2 linked regions of the Homo sapiens genome follow. The protein of the gene in region 1 interacts with the protein of each later gene in a biochemical or structural test. Each region holds a gene or a part of one and is shown in the gene's direction. Other genes may lie near its edges. The genes, in order: PARPBP and RAD51.

What was found.
Region 2: the proteins of PARPBP (region 1) and RAD51 form a complex in vitro, tested with the Homo sapiens proteins (one study listed by BioGRID).

Annotation. Positions count from the first base shown.
Region 1 is NC_000012.12:102,193,141-102,195,892, forward strand, and holds part of PARPBP (PCNA-interacting partner), read left to right. Parts: intron 1-2,171; coding exon 2,172-2,307; intron 2,308-2,752. UniProt on the Homo sapiens protein: Required to suppress inappropriate homologous recombination, thereby playing a central role DNA repair and in the maintenance of genomic stability.
Region 2 is NC_000015.10:40,711,956-40,715,788, forward strand, and holds part of RAD51 (DNA repair protein RAD51 homolog 1), read left to right. Parts: intron 1-3,833.

The DNA of each region.
Region 1 (2,752 bases):
TGAATTGAGGAAATCTAGTTGTAAGGAGAGCTATTGCGCTTATTTTGTGACTATTTGCATAGCAAGCAAAGATTTTTTTACCTAGACTATATGTTAAAAATTAATAAAAGTAACAAAACATTCTAAAGAAATTTTTGTTTGTGCTAAACATGAGATTGAAGAAACATTAGTTTTCTGTACTAAATAATATAATTATTATTTAGTATTATGTTTTTATTTAGAATATTTTATGGGTGGTGCTCATGAGAGTTTTGCAGTGAGAAGCTAACATCTCCCAAGCTAACTCTAGGTGCCATCACTATTGGGTTACAAAGAGTGATCCAAGCCAGCCACTCAGCATCTATTTGCCTGCGTGGTCTTACTATACTCTTTATAACTCTTTATAAGCAATAAGTTTATAATTCTCTATAAGCCATAACTTTTGTGAAGTGAAAATAATGTGTGATAAGATAATGTCAACAGTTAGTACTGGTTTTGCAGATGGAAATAAAAGTTCATGGATAATGCTACTATTATGTAGTATAATATAGAGTCAATTTTATTAATAAAACTTATTTAAATAGGTTTATCTACTGCTTTAAATCTGTAGTTATAGGATTAATAAAGTCCAGAAAGAGCTACTTAAAATCTTCAGTTACATATAGGGCATCTTGAGGTAGAAGCTATTTAATAAGTGTTGCATTCATAGGGATTCATGAAGGTAGTGGGTTGTGAGTCCATTCTGTTCAACTTTTAAAAAAATAGTTTTTGATCTTGTATATTTTCACGTTTATTTTCAGTTTTGTGCATTTTATGCTTAAATGGAAGATAAAACTCCAATTGTCTAATGCTTCATGTAAGCACATGAAACATAATTTTTAGTGATCTGGGAGATGGAGACTGTCACAGACCTCATTAGTCAGAAAGATAGAAAATTTGTCATCCTAGGAAAACTTGCTTTTATGAAGCAGCTGGACAGACGAATATTCTAACTTTTTCTAAGTCATAGTCAGTAGATTTCACTGCCATTGTCTTTACAAACATCTGAGTGAATTAATGCATCGATCTTTGAACATATAATATATAACTACTGAATATATAAAGTCATGCTGTTTTAGATTTCATGACTGTATCAACAAATACTCTGTAAGTAATAATCAGGGTAATGTAGTTATACTCGAAGTGTTACATTTTTGAATTACTGAAGTCATCTTTATTGAATTATGTATTTGAAACTTTGTCTATGTCAGAAAATGATTTCAGGTGACTTCTAATTATTTGGAGACATCTCTCCATTAAACCTGAATGGTATTACACATCATTTGTAATTGTTGAAATTGGCATTATTTGTATAGGCTACTTTGTTCTAAAATTAATTTCTATCCCCAATAGCTCACTGGTTTATGTTTGTGGAACAAATTTCCAAAACTACTTTTTTTGGCATCCTTTTCAGTGATCAAGAATTGAGTTCATCTTTGTAATTTTCTCCTATTTATGTAGAAAGTTAGGCCCTCCTATTTGATGTTTGAAGATAAATGCAAGAGTATACTTTGGATTTCTGACCATTAAGTCACTTGGTCAAATCTTTCTAGACTGATACATTGAATCATCTTTCTTGTTTTCCTAAATACTCGAGAAATAATGTCTTTCCTATATCATTTTGTTTTATCTTGCAGTTTCTTTGCTAGTTTCCTGTTTTTGATTGACCTCACTTAGTTCTTTTTTTCATCTTAGCATTTCTTCCCTCCCTAATTTCTTGAATTCCATATGCTATTTTTTTTCCAAGAGTGTGTTCTTCTTAGGATGAAGAACTTGTATTTTTCTATGATTATGTATATCACCTGTATTGTTATTTTACTTACAATAAGACGCTCCAAAGCAGTGCTGACACAGGAACATGTAACAAAGCCCTGCGAAGAGTCTAAAATTGATTGTTTTGTAACTGTTACCAAAAAAAAAATCAAAAATATACATAAAGCTATTATTTTGGAAAAGAACAAAAATGCTAGCCATAACAATGAATGAGTTTGCAAACTATGAAATATAAAAGGTTAGAGAGAGGTTCTCAATGAGTAATAGAATTTCTAAGGGAAATTTTTATACCTTGATTACTATAGAGTGTGTGTCTATCTAGATGAAGAAATAAAATAATGAATAAATTTGCATATTTTCTTCTTTCTTTCTGTTACTAGATGAAGCAAACTTTAATTAGATCCCAATTTGCTTGTACTTATAAAGATGACTACATGATAAGCAAGGATAATTGGAATAATGTTAATTTAGCATCAAAGCCTTTGTGTGTTCTTTACATGGAAAATGACCTTTCTGGTAATTGACCTTATTTGTGCAATTAAATAACAATTTAATTCTAGTCTACTAATTAGTTTTAACTTAAGTAAAATTAGGTTATTTTTGCAAAGTACTATGAAATGTAAAGGGTAATATTTTTAAAGACCTCAGTTTATTTAAAAAGTTAAATCTAAGTACAAATTTATCGATAGGAATAGGACACAGTTTGATTTAACTAAATGTATTTAAGAAGTAATTTGTAGCATATGTTTAAGGATTAAATGTCATGCATTCAAACAAATATTTCTTAATAGGGCTGACAAGTTGATTACTGGCCAAAGCTAACTCAGAGGTGCTATGATAAAATGAAAAGTAATAGGATAGTAATGTAGCTATATTTGTCAATCATATTATTTATAGCATTATTTTACTTTAAAAATTTGAATATTCGTTAGCCATTTTTAAAGTTTATTGTAAAGTTCTC
Region 2 (3,833 bases), on another chromosome or scaffold:
CAGCTACTTGGGAGGTGGAGGCGGGAGAATCGCTTGAGCCCAGGAGGCCAAGGTTGCCATGAGCCAAGATTGTACCACTGCTCTCCAGCCTGGGCAACAGAGCAAGATTTTGTCTCCATCTCAAAAAAAAAAAAAAAATTAAGATCCTATTTCAGAAGGTTAAGAAGTTTAAACTTGATTTTATGAAGAGTAAGCATTAGCTGGTCAGGAAACTAAGATAGTGACAATAAAGAGAAGTAGGGAAAAGATGTTGTAAAGGGCAGCGCTTGATGACTGACAATAAAAAATACACCTCAGCCCAACAATGTATTACAGTAACTTAGTAAACCTAAAAAGTGTTTGAGAGGGGAAGACAGTTTTGTTGGAAACATGAGTACAGGTTTAGAGATGACAGGTTTGAGGTGACAAACCCCGAGTGAAAATTTCTAGCTGTATTGAGAGATGTGGAACTAAGTCACACAGAGAAGTAAAAATGGAATCTGGAAACGAAAGATCCATGAGAAAGGAAGGGAGTAGGATATAGAAGAGAAAGCTAACAAACTTTCATCTTTTCTGCAACTTCAGGCAGTGTAATGGGGAGCCGTTTTTCCTTGTCTAAGTGAGTCTTAATGTTCTCTGGCTTTAAGGATGTGCTGCATAAGTGGCCAGTCCACAAAGTATCCTTGAACCTGGCCCATGCCCATGGACCAACTCTTCTGTTATAATCTTTTGAAGCTTTATTATAATTTTAGTTATTTTGAAAAACATGGCATTATTTTAATCTAGATAGATTATACCCACTTCTGCCATGGGCACAACTTACTGTTGGAGATCAAAACAACTGAAACAAAATCTGCCTTATATCAGTGTTACAGAAGAGGCTTCCTAGTGTTTTTCTATCCTCGGGACTCAACTCTGTTGAGTTTTTTTTTCTTTTCTTTTCTTTTTTTTTTTTTTTTTTTGAGAAAGAGTCTTGCTCTGTTGCCCAGGCTGTAGTGCAGTGGTGTGATCTTGGCTTGCTGCAACCTCTGCCTCCCAGGTTCAAGCCATTCTCCTGCCTCAGCCTCCCGAATAGCTGGGATTACAGGCATGACGGCCACCACGTCCAGCTAATTTTTGTATTTTTAGTAGAGACGAGGTTTCACCATGTTGGCCAGGCTGGTCTCAAACTCCTGACCTCAAGTTAATCTGCCCGCCTTGGCCTCCCAAAGTGCTGGGATTACAGGAGTGAGCCACCGTGCCTGGCCCAAGTTTATTTAAATTTAACATCAAGTAACCTAGCTTGATAGCCTCCCATTTTTCTTATTTTCCTTTTTTTTTTTTTTTTTATTTGAGACGGAGTCTCTGTCGCCTAGGCAGGAGTGCAGTGGCGCAATCTTGGCTCACTGCAACCTCCATCTCCTGGGTTCAAGCAGTTCTCCAGCCTCAGCCTCCCAAACTGGGATTACAGGTGCCTGCCACCCAACACAGCTAATTTTTTGTATTTTTAGTAGAGACAAGGTCTTGCTGTGTTGGCCAGGCTGGTCTTGAACTCCTGACCTCAGGTGATCCACCCGCCTCAGCCTCCCAAAGTGCTGGGATTACAGGTGTGAGCCACCATGCCCGGCTTTTTGTTGTCATTTTAATTGTTTATTGCTCCACTGATATTTTCTTTGCAGACCAAAATGTTACAATTTTTTTTTTTTTTTTTGAGGCGGAGTCTCATTCTGTCGCCTGGGCTGGAGTGCAGTGGTGCCATCTCTGCTCACTGCAAGCTCCGCCTCCTGGGTTCACGCCATTTTCCTGCCTCAGCCTCCCGAGTAGCTGGGACTACAGGCGCCCGCCACCACGCCTGGCTAATTTTTTGTATTTTTAGTAGAGACAGGTTTTCACCGTATTAGCCAGGATGGTCTCGATCTCCTGACCTTGTGATCCGCCCACCTTGGTCTCTCAAAATGCTGGGATTACAGGTGTGAGCCACCGTGCCTGGCTGGCTGCCATATGTCTTATGAGACAGCCAAGCTAGCATGTCAGTATCGAGTAGACCTAATCCATTGTTAACTCTCCTCAGAAATAAATTCTTTTTTTTTTTTTTTTTTGAGATTGGGTCTCACTATGTTGCACCGGCTGTTCTTGAACTCCTGAGCGCAAGCAATCCTCCAACCTCAGCCTCCCACATAGCTGGGATTACAGGTGAATGCCTCTGCACCCAGATCCTCATAATCATTAGGAAGAAAGAGCTGAGGGGGAGGGGTGGAGGAGGATGCTTAGGAGACCTTTTATGATAATAAGGGAGGAAACATTGAGAAGAGGAAGAGTAAGTTATAGAAGCTATAGCTATTGCGTGAGCTCCATTAGAAATTTGATAGCTAAAGGGAATTAGGGCTGTTTAAAATGTCACTCTTACATCCGTCATTTGACATGATATGTGACCTTTTTAAATAGAAATGTTTTCCCATGTTTTGACAGGGACTTATGTAGAATAAGTATTTAGACTACAGTACATAATATCTATAGTTGCCATGGCAACTCAGCATAGCATGCTGACACTCCAAAGTTGTACAAATAGAATCCTAATCTGAGAATGTTTAAGTAGTCAGATAATGTCTGTCAACAATAAACTAAAGCAAAATTCTCAAGTAAATATAGCCTGTTAAAATAACATTTACAGATGGCTGAACAACTATATAGATCGTTGACTTTTTTTAAAGAAAAAGAATGCTAATTAATTAATAATAGAAAAGATTACATTTCATCAGCCTAAGAGCTGGAACCAGGGATATAGAGAGGATGTTAGACTATTACTTAAATCTAAATATTATCTACTCTCATTTGTTTTCTCAATTTAATGAAGTAAAACCCCATTATATGTTAGGTCTCTCTCTAATAGAAAAGTCATAAAGTTGAGAGCTACAGTTAGGTTACAAAATGAATTAGCCCATGCTTGTTCAAAGTACTGCAGTAGTTTTAAAATTCTGGGCCGGGTATGGTGGCTCATGCTTGTAATTCCAGCACTTTGGGAGGCTGAGGCCGGAGGATTGCTTGAACCCAGGAGTTCCAGACAAGACTGGGGAATATGGCGAGATCCCATTTCAATTAAAAAATAAAAACAGTTCTGAGAAGACAATTTAACATAAGTACCAGTTTTAAAAGCACATGCCCATGCGGGCATGGTGGCTCACGCCTGTAATCCCAGCACTTTGGGAGGCTGAGGTGGATGGATCACAAGGTCAGGAGTTCAAGAACAGCCTGGCCAAGATGGTGCAACCCTGTCTCTACTAAAAATACAAAAATTAGCCAGGCGTGGGGGTGGGCGCCTGTAATCCCAGCTACTTGGGAGGCTGAGGCAGAGAATTGCTTGAACCTGGGAAGTGGAGGTTGCAGTGAGCTGAGATCGTGCCACTGCACTCCAGCCTGGGCAACAGAGTAAGATTCTGTCTCAAAAAAAAACCAAAAACCAAAAAACCACAAAACAAAAAAATCACATACCCTTTGACAGAAAATTTGTCTTACAGAACATTTCACATATATGCAAAGATAAATGTACAAATAATTTATACCAAAGCATAATTAAAATGGTAAAAGTTAGAAACATACTGCATCACTATAAAATGAGAAGTGTTAAATTATGCTCCTAAGCAGTTATTAAGAAGAGCTAACCTGATGGTATCCCAATCCAGTAACAGAAGATGGCTATGATGGCACTGGGAGGGCAAGGTAGAAAGGGCCAAATAAGCTGGAGAACAGAGCATGCAATCCATCCCCATGATCTTACCCTGGGAGCTTGTCCACTATCCTGTTGTCAGTCTACCTACCTATTCCCAATCATCTGTGGCCTTTCCTTTGCCAAGGAAGTCTATTCAATTGGAAAAGAA